Linked DNA regions of Homo sapiens. The protein of the gene in region 2 interacts with the protein of the main gene of each other region in a pairwise test. Each region holds a gene or a part of one and is shown on either strand. Other genes may lie near its edges.

What was found.
Region 1: the proteins of PLP1 (region 2) and MYADM interact in binary tests that used the Homo sapiens proteins (3 or more experiments, as listed by UniProt).
Region 3: the proteins of PLP1 (region 2) and CREB3L1 interact in binary tests that used the Homo sapiens proteins (3 or more experiments, as listed by UniProt).
Region 4: the proteins of PLP1 (region 2) and TMPRSS2 interact in binary tests that used the Homo sapiens proteins (3 or more experiments, as listed by UniProt).

Annotation. Positions count from the first base shown.
Region 1 is NC_000019.10:53,870,765-53,873,996, reverse strand, and holds part of MYADM (myeloid-associated differentiation marker), read right to left. Parts: exon of another isoform or gene 3,165-3,232; intron 470-3,164; 5' UTR 468-469; coding exon 1-467.
Region 2 is NC_000023.11:103,789,801-103,793,146, reverse strand, and holds the end of PLP1 (myelin proteolipid protein), read right to left. Parts: intron 2,621-3,346; coding exon 2,549-2,620; 3' UTR 528-2,548; downstream 1-527.
Region 3 is NC_000011.10:46,318,668-46,321,997, forward strand, and holds the end of CREB3L1 (cyclic AMP-responsive element-binding protein 3-like protein 1), read left to right. Parts: intron 1-1,596; coding exon 1,597-1,861; intron 1,862-2,042; coding exon 2,043-2,079; coding exon of another isoform or gene 2,080-2,230; 3' UTR 2,231-2,742; downstream 2,743-3,330.
Region 4 is NC_000021.9:41,477,071-41,480,776, forward strand, and holds part of TMPRSS2 (transmembrane protease serine 2), read right to left. Parts: intron 3,533-3,706; coding exon 3,406-3,532; intron 2,213-3,405; coding exon 2,102-2,212; intron 1-2,101. UniProt on the Homo sapiens protein: Plasma membrane-anchored serine protease that cleaves at arginine residues. Participates in proteolytic cascades of relevance for the normal physiologic function of the prostate.

The sequences.
Region 1 (3,232 bases), on a different chromosome or scaffold from region 2:
GCCACTTCGGTGGCGTAAGCCACACACGCGATGCAGGAGAAGAAGGTGGCGGCGATGGCGTGGTCCCGCGAACGGCCGTGGGACAGGAACTGGACATAGGTGGTGGGGTAGATGATGGAGGCCGAGAGGCAGAAGAGGGCCGCATAGCAGGCGAAGGTGATGGGGAAGTTGCGCCAAGACAGGGGGAAGCGGGCCTGGAGCCCGCACAGCTCCACGATGAGGATGATCAGGGTCACGGAGAAGCAGAAGCACCAGGTGAACATGGACCAGTTGCCCATGGACCCCGTCCAGGCGCCCACGCTAGCCACCAGCGAGAAGGCCACGCAGGTAGACACCAGCTGCAGCAGGCGAAGGAGACCCAGGGGCTGTGTCAGGGCCCGAGGGGACCCCACGATCATGGGGGACCCCAGGCCCGAAGATGACGTCGTGGTGGTTGTGATGGTGGTGCGGGTTACCGTCACTGGCATGGCTGCAAAAAGGGGAAAGACAGTGTCCTTATACAGTCACAAACATAAGAATCCAGGTCCCTTAGCCATTGCCTACCCCAGGGACAAATTAATATGAGCTCTAATTAGGGAGTTCCCAAGATGTGGGGCTTTCGGTTTTCTTTTCTTTTTTTTTTTTTGAGACAGAGTCTTGCTCTGTGGCCCAGGCTGGAGTGCATTGGCACAATCTCAGCTCACTACAACCTCTGCTACTCAGGTTCAAGTGATTCTCCTGCCTCAGCCTCCCGAGTAGCTGAGATTACAGGCATGTGCCACCACGCCCGGCTAATTTTTTTGTATTTTTAGTAGAGACGGGGTTTCACTGTGTTAGCCAGGATGGTCTCGATCTCCTGACCTCATGATCCGCTGGCCTTGGCCTCCCAAAGTGCTGGGATTATAGGCGTGAGCCACCGGGCCCAGCCTTGGGTTTTCAAATGGGGACAGTCCTGGGCATACAGGGATGAGCCTGTCCCCTCCGGTTCAAGGCTCACTCCTCCCCTACTCGTATCAGAATCCAGGAGTCTAGGCCCCTATTTTCCTCCTTCTCAAGAGATTCTTCTCTCTTTCAAGACCTAACTACTGTACAACTACACTGTTTGCTTCCCACTCCAGATACCGTGCTTCCCTCTTTCCCTCCCTCCCCAAGGGACTCAGTAGCTCAGCCATTTAGCACTCTGTACTCTATAGCACCACCCCTCTGGCCAGGCACAGGTGTGGCTGATGCCTGTAATCCCAGCACTCCAAGAGGCTGAGGCAGGAGGATTGCTTGAGCCCAGGAGTTGGAGACCAGCCTGGGCAACCTTAGGGAGACCTCATTTACCAAAAAAAAATTTTTTAATTAGCTGGGTGTGGTGGTGTGTGCGTGTGGTCCCAGCTACTCGGGATGCTGAGGTGGGAGGATTGCTTGAGCCTGTGGGGTCAGGGCTGCAGTGAGCTGTGATGCACCAGTGCACTCCAGCCTGGGAGACAGAGTGAGACCCTGACTCAAAAAAAAAAAATTTTTTTTAATTACAAATAGGCCGGGTGTGGTGGCTCACACTTGTAATCCCAGCACTTCGGAGGCCAAGGTGGGTGGATCACTTGAGGTCAGGAGTTGGAGACCAGCCTGGCCAACGTGGCGACACTCGGTCTCTACTAATAATACAAAAATTATCTGGGCGTGGTGGCATGCACCTGCAATCCCAGCTACTCGGGAGACTGAGGCAGGAGAATCACTTGAACCCAGGAGGCAGAGGTTGCAGTGAGCCAAGATAGAACCCCTGCACTCCAGCCTGAGCCACAGAGCCACACTCCGCCTCAAAAAAAATAAAATAATCTGGGCGCAGTGGCTCATGCCTGTAATCCCAGCACTTTCGGAAGCCGAGGCTGGCAGATCACTTGAGGTCAGAAGTTCAAGACCAGCCTGACCAACATGGTGAAACCCCGTCTCTACTAAAAATACAAAAATCAGCTGGGTGTGGTGGTGGGCGCTTGTAATCGCAGCTACTTGGGAGGCTGAGGCAGGAGAATCGCTTGAACCCTAGAGGTGGAGGTTGCAGTGAGCCGAGATTGCGCCACTGCACTCCAGCCCGGGTGACATGAGTGAAACTCCATCTCAAAAAATAAAATAAAATAATAAAAATAAATAAAATAAATAAAAAATAAAGCATCCTCCTTCTGCCTCCTGCCACAACCCAAGTGTCAGAACAAAACGCTTGTCTTCCACAGGCTCTGAAAACCCCATCTCTCAACTTCCTTTTCTTTCAGTATTCAGAGCTCTGCACCCCAGACCCTGTGAGCAAACTTCCTTCTTCCATCGAACAGTGACCTAGACATTTGCAGCCTCTAAACGGCCCAACCTCCCCAGGCTTCCACTCTCAGGGACCCACATCTAATAAGAGCTCCGACCTCCCGATAAAGGATATCTTCTCATAGAGATCCCAGCCGTGGAAAACCAAGAGATCTCCCCTCCCTTCTGACAAGGAGCCTAAACTCTTAGCGGCCTCCTCCTCTCCCTACCCCCCACCTTGGAGATTAGCAACCTTCACTCTCAGTCTAACTCCCACCTGAGATTTAGGACTGGAGTACTGCAACCCAAAAAAGCTAGTTTGAGCCTCCCCCTCCACACTCCTGCATACTGAGTCCATCTACCTCCACCTTCTCTCCCCAAAACCCAGCCAGCTGGTCCCCCAGCTTCTGGGAAACTCAGCTCCCCAGATTTCCAACTGTCCAGTAGGAACCCCAGGCCCTTCCACTGAACTCTCTCTAGGCCTCACAATCCTGTTTTTTGGTTGTTGTTTTTTTTACATGGAGTCGCTCTGTCACCCAGGCTGCAGTGCAATGGTGCGATCTTGACTCACGGCAACCTCCGCCTCCCGGATTCAAGCGATTCTCCTGCCTCAGCCTCCTGAGTAGCTGGGATTACAGGTGTGTGCCACCATGCTCGGCTAATTTTTGTATTTTCAGTAGAGATGGGGTTTCGCCATGTTGGCCAGGCTGGTCTCAAACTCCTGACCTCAAGTGATCCGCCCGCCTTGGCCTCCCAAAGTGCTGGGATTACAGGCATGAGCCACTGCGCCTGGCCATCACCGTCCTGTTATAAGGGGTCAGACCTCTGGCCCTGGACCCTTAGCCTGAAGGATCCCAGATGCCCCAGACTCCAGAAAACCAATTTGCTTCTTTAGTCCTTGCAAAACCTACAGCTTCCACCTCCTTGTCCTAATGGCCCCCAGGAATCAAGTGCCCGTCCTCTTAGAAACCAGGTGCCC
Region 2 (3,346 bases):
GTTGCCCTTTCCATACCTGCTCTGTCCTTTAAGTACTAAACCTTCCATCCAGTACTATCCAAATAAAACTAAATATTAGTCACGTATGAATTACTAAGGGATCATTACTGGAATATCCAAACAATTTAAAGAGAAGGTAACAATAACTTAAATCTAAATGCACCGGGGACTGGGGCACCACTAAGGTATTGAAAAAGTAACCATAGTTGACTCTGAACATTCTGAAACCCAACTTCGAAGAGAAAAGAAACCTTTAAGTAGGCAATAAATTGGTTTCAATATCTGCGTTTTAACACAAGCTCAGACATGTACTTACTGGATTTCTTTGGGCAAATTACTTTGCTTCTATTTCTTAGTGTCTTCAACTATAAAAGTAGAAGTAATCTATTCATATACTATTTATTTCAGAGAAATGTTATGAGAATGACTTGGATGAGCTGAAAAATGAATGATCTCCTTGAACAAGGTACGATTATTAAGTTTCTATTGTGAAGTCAAATAGAACAATTCACTCAAAGGACACGATGTTTGATTGAGAACATTCTTAATTTTATTTTCTTTAATTTTATAAAATACACTTTGTAAGATAAGTTTCTAAAAGTTTATCCTTTATGTGTGTTAAAATTGCAATTCTATATCAGAAATGAAGGAAACACTTTCAGTTGATTAACTCTCTTTGTGTGTGTATATATGTGTATGTATGCATGTGAGGTTTTCAGGGAAGGGTTGGTTATTTGTTATGTTATTAAATCAAAACAAAACACAAGGTACGGATTACTTCACTGTCCTTTATCTTGATTGGTTTCTTACAAAACATTTTCCCTCTCCTCCTTCTATGCAGCCTGGAAGCTTATCTTGTATACTGGTTTGAAAACAAGTATCAAGTGTCTTTTTGTAAAGCTCTTACATCTCCTTAAATATTGCTGAAACCACTTTGGGGGAAAAGAACAACACAACTCTTTACAACAAAAGAACTGTAGTACAAATCTTTCCTTCAATTAAAACCAATCAGACTTTTTTTTTTTTTAACCCAAAGTTAACAAAAACAGGAAAAGACTGAAATCTGGGAGCTATTCAGGTCTCAAACTCTTTCTGCCTGTCCTTTTTCCTGGAAGCTTACCAACTGAATAGCTGATGACTGGTGCATTCTGTTATGTGATCTATATCAGGAGAAAATAACCTTTATGTTAAACCTAACTCTTAACACACCAAGATAACATTGCTAAGTAAAATCATTTTCCATTAGCTAGAAAGAACGATCAGATTACTCAAATTGAGATTCAAATTCACCAAATCTGTTTCTGCAAAGGCAGAATACTTGTAGAAAATCCCAATAGATTCAACTAGCCAATTTTTAATATCATTTGTGATGCTTAATGTCCAATTTTCCTAGTTTAAAAAACAGTCATAATCAAAGAATTATTCTCCAGACATTTCTGATGCAACCCCAAATAAGTAATAAACAAACTGGAATACATGAAATGTGCATCATTCTAAAACAAATCAAGACCTTCAAATCACCTACGATGACTGAATGGATAATACCCCATGAAATGAGCACCATTGTGAAGATATGACAGAGGCCAGAGTACACAACTAATTAACAGAAAAAAAGACATGCTATCCAAAGAGTTATCTATCCTGTGTCTACCAGAGGGCCATCTCAGGTTACACCATTAGCCACCAGCAACTGCTGCTCCTCAGGCCAGTCTGTTCTCATGTAAGCTAGTTTCCTTCTATTCTCAGCTCCTTGGAAACCACAGGGTTGTCATGGTAGCTGTTATCAAGGAGAAGGGAGTGAGAAGATGCTGACAACACCCTGTTTCTCTTCCCTAACGAGGTGTAAGGCCAGATGCCCCCTTCGTCTACACAGATTCTACGCTCCCTTATGCTGTAAGTAAGGTTGGCTGAGTTAGGGCTTCAGTAGTCCATCGCCATCGGGGTCAGTGCTCTCTTTCTGTGGGTGAAAGATCCTTGCTTTGACCCCCTTCTCCCAGCTGCAATAGGCAGATTTGGGCAAACGCTCTTATTGTTTTTCTGACATTCTTTTTTCTTCTATCTTCAGTGGTAATAGAGAGACCAGAATGAATTCCATTTTGTACACCAAAGAGAATATATTTGGCCCCTATAGATGGCAAGAGGACCAAAGACATTCCTTCTCTGTACCTGAGCATCTTTCCTTCCACTTTGTTTCCATCAGTGGAAGTACCCTTTGAGAAGAAATTACTTTCTGATCCTCAGGAGATGCTTGAAAATTCAATTAGAGCCTCCATTCCTTTGTGACTTGCAGTTGGGAAGTCATCTTCTTAGGCATTTCCCATTTCTAGCAGGAACCAGCTATGAAGCAAAATGACTAAAAGAGGTACATAAGAGGGGAGAGTCCAAAGAGAGACCTTAATCACTGCAAGACTCTCCTTTCTTGTTACACTCATCAAGTAAGAAGAGGGCCAGTTGGTGGCAAAGGCAAAGAGTTAAGATGGGAGACGCAGCATTGTAGGCTGTGTGGTTAGAGCCTCGCTATTAGAGAAAGGGGGATTTCTACGGGGGATCAGAACTTGGTGCCTCGGCCCATGAGTTTAAGGACGGCAAAGTTGTAAGTGGCAGCAATCATGAAGGTGAGCTGTAGGGAACAGAAGAGAGAATGTGAATGAGAGTAGAAAAGAAAGCACTCCCTCCTCAAATCCCTTTGGGAATGAGGAAGGGTAGAAATAAAATCATAACTAAATAAGGGAAAAACCCATGCTCTGCAAAAAGCAGTACATCCCAGGCTTGGCTTTCTCCATATACACTTGACTGGAAGTCCGATGTCTCTGAGGCATCATGGGTCTCATGGCCCAGGCCCAGAGAATCAAATCATAAAGATTTATTCCACACCTCTGTTTGATCTAGCACTGAGTTTTCCTCAGGGAAGTGAACAATATTTGGGCTTTGCCACATCAATATGTCCGAGTGACTTAGAGTCATAGGGTGCTTGCTGTAGACACACAGCCACATCATGCAGTAGAGCTCTCCCCTGGTTAATGAATCAATTCGTTTTACAAGGTGAGAAATTACTTGACTCTGTATGGAAACCTCAGCAGTAGGGGCCAGGAGTTCTGTGAGCTCATCTTGTCTGATCACTGCTTATAAAATAACTTCAGATAAATCACTTCACCCTTCAGTGCCTTAGGTTTTTAATCTGCACAATGAGCACACTACATTCACAGGGCACTGTAGCACTATCAGCAAGACCTGGGACATAGCATTGTATTATAATCATAACAATTCTAATAATGTTAGGAGGTCCTCCCAGTATTTCCATATGAGTAACTAAATCCACTGGAGAGTATCCAAAGTGGATTCATAT
Region 3 (3,330 bases), on a different chromosome or scaffold from region 2:
TCCTTCAGGTGGACCCACAGAGGAACTTCCTGGCTGTCCCTCATCACTTACCAGTCAGTCACTTACCAAGAACCACGTGTCTGGCAGGACAGGAGGAGGAAGAGGAAACAGATGGGAGGTCAGAGGAGGGAAGATTAAGGAGTGAGTTTCAAGAAGGAGGGATATAGCAGGGAGGATGAGCTAGACGTTGAGGGCCTTGAGGGGAGGAAGCTGGTGTGGGGAGGGTTAGGGAAAGAGGAAGTAGAGACAGGGAGAGTGAAAGCTCCTCCCCGGACACGTGCAGGCTGAGGAGGAGAGAACGGGGTGGTCACTAAAGGCGGGTGGGCAGCAGCAATGCAAGGTCTGGAGAGCCATGTGTCTGCTTTTCCAAGGCCACAGAAGCCACTGGAGAAAAAGGAGTGGAAAGAGAGCTGGGGTTGATGGATAAAGCCACAGTGAGAGGAGGCAATGAATGAGCCCCTTGGAGGGAAGGCAGTGGGTTTTAGGCCCAGGACCTGGGCTGGGTGGAGAGGAAGACACATCCCAGCAGGCAGATGGCTTTGGAGCAGGCTGGTTTGCAGAGCTGGCGCACTGCGCAGTTCCAGGGACCTCTGTTCACACAGACTATGAGGTCATGGCTGCAGAGCCGGAGGGGCAGCAGATCCCAGGGCCAGGCAGACCTGGGTTCGCATCCTCCCTTCAGGGAGGACAATTTCCCTGAGTGCCTGGAACTTCAGCTGCCTCCTCTGGGAAGCGGGGCTAAAGAAACCTCATTCCCTAGAGTTTCTCTAAGATTTTAACCACTCTACTTAGGTCTATGGGCCTTGGATAATGCCTAACAAATGATGGGTGTCCAACAAATGTTTGTTTTCCTTCTCTGAAGGGCAAATTAGGATCTAGAATGGGGAAGAGACTTATTCCAGGTCTCACAGAAAGTAAGTGGTGGACTGGCCGGGTGCGGTAACTCACTCCGGTAATCTCAGCACTTTGGGAGGCCAAGGTGGGAGGATCACTTGAGGCCCAGGAGTTCAAGATCAGCCTGGCCAACATGGTGAAACCCCGTCTCTACTAAAAATACAAAAAGTAGCCAGGTATGGTGGCACACACCTGTAGTCCCAGCTACTCGGGAGGCTGAGGCAGGAGAGTCGCTTGAGCTCGGGAGGCGGAGATTGCAGGGAGTCAAGATCCTGCCATTGCACTCCAGCCTGGGCGACAGAGCAAGACTCTGTCTCAAAAAAAAAAAAAAGGGAGATAGAGCAAGTAAGTGGTGGAGGTTAGAACACAGCTCCCAGATGCCCAAACTCAGTACCCTCTGCTAGGAAGAGGTGACTTTTCTGAGTATTTCCTGAACACAGTTTCAATCACTTCCCCTGTATTACCTCATTTAAACCTCTCATTTACATGAGGTTGGTCCTAGTATCCCTATTTTACAGAAGAGCACACTGAGGCTCAGAAAGTTTAAAGCAAAGTGTGTGGCTTACCTGAGGTCACACATCCGGGAAGTGTCAGAGCTGGGACTCAGATCCAGGGCCTGCGTCCTTAACCACTAGGCCATGAATGTGGCCAGGATGTTGAGGGAATCTTGGGCACACCGCTCATCCTACACTCCCTCTCCAGTGCCCTCCCGAAGCCTCCTATTCTACGATGACGGGGCAGGCTTATGGGAAGATGGCCGCAGCACCCTGCTGCCCATGGAGCCCCCAGATGGCTGGGAAATCAACCCCGGGGGGCCGGCAGAGCAGCGGCCCCGGGACCACCTGCAGCATGATCACCTGGACAGCACCCACGAGACCACCAAGTACCTGAGTGAGGCCTGGCCTAAAGACGGTGGAAACGGCACCAGCCCCGACTTCTCCCACTCCAAGGAGTGGTTCCACGACAGGTGGGGTGTGTGGCCCCTTTCCCTCCTGAGGTCTCAGGCTCCACCTGCCTCCTGCCCACCCTTGGTCCCCACATTGGCCACACCCTCCCAAGGCCCCATCCCTACTTGGTCTAGATCCAGCTTGCAGAGGGTAAGAGGGTTCCTGCTGGACAGTCATCGCTGGCCTCTCTTCTCTCTCCAGGGATCTGGGCCCCAACACCACCATCAAACTCTCCTAGGCCATGCCAAGACCCAGGACATAGGACGGACCCCTGGTACCCAGAAGAGGAGTTCTTGCTCACTAACCCGGATCCGCCTCGTGCCCCTGCCTCCTGGAGCTTCCCATTCCAGGAGAAAAGGCTCCACTTCCCAGCCCTTCCTTGCCCCTGACATTTGGACTCTTCCCTTGGGCCGACCACTCTGTTCTCATTCTCCTTCCCACCAACATCCATCCGTCCTTCTCAGACAAACCACTCACTGGGTACCCCACCTCCTCTCTCATATGCCCAACACGACCACTGCCTCCCTGCCCCCACACCTGCACCCAAACAGACACATCAACGCACCCCACTCACAGACACCCCTTACCCCACCCCCACTGTACAGAGACCAAGAACAGAAATTGTTTGTAAATAATGAACCTTATTTTTTATTATTGCCAATCCCCTAAGATATTGTATTTTACAAATCTCCCTCTTCCCTTCGCCCCTCCCTTGTTTTATATTTTATGAAGTTAGTGCGGGCTTTGCTGCTCCCTGGCCCAGGAAAGAGGGACTACCTGACCCTCACCTGGCACCCCCCTGCTGCTGCCCAAGCCGCTGGGCCTTTTTAATTGCCAAACTGCTCTCTTCATCAGCTCAGCACATGCTTTAAGAAAGCAAAACCAAAAAAAAAAAAAAAAAGATGCAGCATCAACTCCTGACTTTGTGCCTTTCTTCATTGGAGGGGAGGGAAAGTAGAACCAAAGGGCAGGGGAACAACAAGGGTAGGTTGATTTTATGTTCTGGCAGGGGGTGTGGGGGTATAGGAGTATGAGAAGGCATTTTTTTTTTTTTGTAGAGGTAGGGTCTCGCTATGTTGCCCAGGCTGGTCTCAGACTCCTGGGCTCAGTCTGCCCACCATGGCCTCCCACAGTGCTGGGATTACAGGCGTGAGCCACCATGCCCAGCCTGTTCACTTTTTATTTTCCAATATTTTGTTGACTGATTTGTTATTTCCTCTTCTGTCTTTGGGCTTTATTTATAGCTTTTATATGTGTATGCTTTTATTTGAGGATTAGGAAGATAGTTTAGATAAATGTTTTTTATCTGCCTATTTAAGGAGAACCCCATGTATGTATGTATGTGTACATGAATGAATGACAAGATCTCGCTCTATTGCCCAAGTTGGAGTCCAGTGGTGCAATCATAACTCACTGTGGTTTCAAAATCCTGGGCTTAAGCAATCTTCCACCTCAGCCTCCCAAAGTGCTGGGATTACAGGCGTCAGCC
Region 4 (3,706 bases), on a different chromosome or scaffold from region 2:
GTTACTCATTTGGGAGTCAAACATCCCAGGTTATGGATGAAGAGGAAGTAACTGATGCATTTTGTCCTGCAGTGAATTTCCCAGGCTATGCTGAGAAGGGAAGACGCGGCCCCTGGCATGCAGAGCTGGCCCGCCCTGATAGCTGGGCCGTGTGCTCTGCGGAACCTGAATTATTTCACTGAGCGTCAATATCGGACTAGGCCCCTCCATGCCTGAGATGGGGCAAGACACAAGGAGCCTCCTCCGAAATGATGTCTGAACAGACAGAACAGGAACCTTGTGCTCACAACCACAAAATCACGATCTGATGTCTCCTCCTGTCCTGGCTAACTTGAGCGACGGACGTTTCTTTACCAATCACAGCTTTAGCCTAGCCTCATTCCAACCTCCTCCTAGAAAAAAAATAATAAAGCAGCCTCACAGAATTACCCCTGCTTCCTGACAGCATCCAATCCAGAGCAAATCTCTGCTTCCTCCAACCACCCCCAAACCACCTTGCAGGAGCCCAGGCCCTACAATAATAGGTCCTTCCTGACACCTTCTTACTAAGGCACACCCCCCGGGTTCTCAGTGACTACAGGTGCATTCCAGGTGGACTCTGGCTCTGGGGCACTGACACGGCCAAGTGAAGACATGTCCCCTTTAAGAGAAGACATTTCCTAAGAATCCTAAGGTCGGTAGGGATAGCCCTGTGTGGTCACAGCGCCAGGGCACATGTGGTTATTCACAGAAGCCCGACAGAAAACAAGCCAAGAACTCAGGCATCAAAGGGCAACTGCTGCACAGAAAGAGGAAAAGAAGTGCGCCTCCCCCCACCACCACCACCGAGATAGAATAGAGCCTACCAGACAATGGCCTTCTCTTCTTTCTTCCAAGCCCTCCAGCCTCCTTGTGAGTTCCCAAGGCTCTTGCCAAGGGACGGCAGCACCTCCTCCCCTCCCCCCGTCCCTGCCCGGCTGGACTTGGCTCCCTGATTCCGTGTGTAACCCAGAAAGACAAAGAACCACTCAGCATTTACAAAGTGCCCAGGCAGCTGTGTTTAGCTTCTCCACAGGGACAAACCGCAGCCCTGCTGTTTTGATGGGTGCACCTGGCCGTGCACAGCCCTCCCCACTGGGCTTGCCCTGCCACATTCCCCAGGACAGCAGGCTGCAGTGGAAGTCAGGCCCCCAGACCCCTCCACCAGCGGCCTCCAGGAATGCAAACCTGCCCCAGGCTCCCACTCAGAGGAAAGGTGGCGCGGGGTGATTAGTTCATCCTCCCCCGAAATGCAGCACCTGGCACCTGGCAGGCAGGGAGGTGATGCCTAGACACCAGGCATAAGCCCTGGGGACCTGGGAGGCAAGGAGAGCTCATGGGCAAAGGACACTGTGTATCTTTCACATCAGAAAACACATAACAGCAACAATCATAGCAAGTCTGCAAACATCCTAAATATGTGCAAAGCAAAAGGAAGAGCCTAAGTCCATCCCCTCTTCTGCCCTCCCAGCCAGGTCAGCCACTCATCATGTGACCTGTGGCTTGTACCCACTTCTACCCCCTGGAAACACCACAACTCATTCCCAGGCCGCCAGAATGCTGCCCATCCCTCACAGAGCACCCTCTGGCACTGCTGTCCCGGGGTTGGGGCTAACGGGACCAGCCAGCCCAGCTGCCTGGAATGGAGCAGGACTTCCCTTGCTCAAGCCAGTGAAGTCCCTGGCAAACTGGAATGAGCCGGTCACCCTGGCTGGGACACTGAGACATTATCTTGGATTCCTAGAACCACGCCCTGACAAAATAGGTACACCTCTAAATGTCTGAAGAGGAAAGAAAACTAAATAGAGTTGAATGTCGATGTTGCAAGTGTGAGCCGCTACCAACAAGGGCAGACGGTAGAGGCTGAAAATGAAATAGCAGAGAAACCTCAGCCACTTCCTATGAATAAACCAAGGGCTGCTTAGAGTAACCAGGCCTGGTCAGACTCTAATCTCCTCCCAATGCAAAACCCATCCAGACCGAGTATTGCAGCTCAGAGAAATCAGACTCAGGACAACGATTCCCCATGGTGTCTCCTAGTTGATTTCATTCCAAAATTTTTCAAGAAGAAATTGCTGCATACCTGTGGTACAGTTTTTTATAGATATCGACATTGCCGGCACTTGTGTTCAGTTTCATAAAGCTGGTGGATCCGCTGTCATCCACTATTCCTTGGCTAGAGTAAAAATTATTCCTAAAAAAGAAAACCTTATTTGTGATAATGGTTAAGGCATAAGCAAACACAAATCCTATACTATGTCATAATACCGCTCATACGACATTCAGAATAAGAGGGAAAAACCTTAGCATTTAGGAAAAAAAATCACACGTTCTAACCAAGTGCTAGAATATTGTAACGATTTTTCGATTCAATAACCCTAAAGTGTCAGACAAAATTCCTTCATTGGTCGTGTTTCTTATCCAGGTTAGGATCAAGAAACTATGAGAAGGACATAGGATTGTATAATCATACACACATTTAATCTAATAAAAGGTACAGATGTTAACATGGCCCCAGTTATCAATTCCACCAGGTTCCTGGACTGTGATGGGGGGGCTTTGCTGTGTAATTCACCCCTGCTGTTTAGGGATGTCACAGTGACTAGCTAAGATGCCAACTTTCTCACCGAGTGGTAATTCATTCTGAAAACTGGCATATTGAATACCCTAAAGTTGCATAGAAATCACCTGGGGACCCTCCCATGGAAAACAAAGTGGCAGTAGCATCCTACCACCCTCTCCCCCGATGCCTGAGGGCTGCCGCATCTCCCCAGGCAGTGCTGGTAAATGGTAACCACCGCCCCACCCCCGTTAGGAATCACTGTCAGGCGACACACACCCTGTTAAGCCTTCCCACCTTCCCTCAGAGCTACGAGCAGGAATGACATTTTTTAAGTATCAGTCTGATTGATTGATTCTCTCCCCAGCTCAAAAGGCTTCCATGGCTCCCGAATGAAGTGAAACTGGCACAGGATTTGTCTCTGCTGCTCTCCCCAGCCCAACCCTCCTCGCCAGCTGTTCTGGTCCAACCTCTACCCAGGGAGGTGAATGGACCCTGGCTGAGAGGCACCTTGGAAAAAGAGGCACCTAACGCCCTCAGCCTACCCCTCTGACCAGATGACCACAGCACTGGGCACTCCCGAGCAACCAGGAGTCTATAGAGGCCAAGGAGGAGGCAGGGCAAGGTGGCAGTGAGCCAAGGTCTGTGTGCTGGGCACAGCCCTAGCAGGACAAATTCCACCTGCTGGTTATAGGGCTCAGCTTTTGGAAGGTGACAATTGTCCCCAGCACTCATGTGCCGGTGCTTTCACAGGGAGGCAGAGAGAGGGTCTTCTCGTGTTTCTGCTGTCTGTTACTGTCACTCGGCGGGTGCTGCCCCATACTCACTTATAGCCCATGTCCCTGCAGGCCGCCCGCCCGTAGTTCTCGTTCCAGTCGTCTTGGCACACAGGGTGCCAGGACTTCCTCTGAGATGAGTACACCTGAAGGATGAAGTTTGGTCCGTAGAGGCGAACTGCACGAGAGGGAGGATTATCCATGAGTTTCTTTCTTTTTTTTTCTTTTTTTTGAGACGGAGTCTCGCTCTGTCACCTAGGCTGAAGTGCAGTGGTCTGATCTCCACTCACTGCAGCCTCCGCCTCCCAGGTTCAAGTGATTCTCCTGCCTCAGCCTCCCGAGTAGCTGGGAT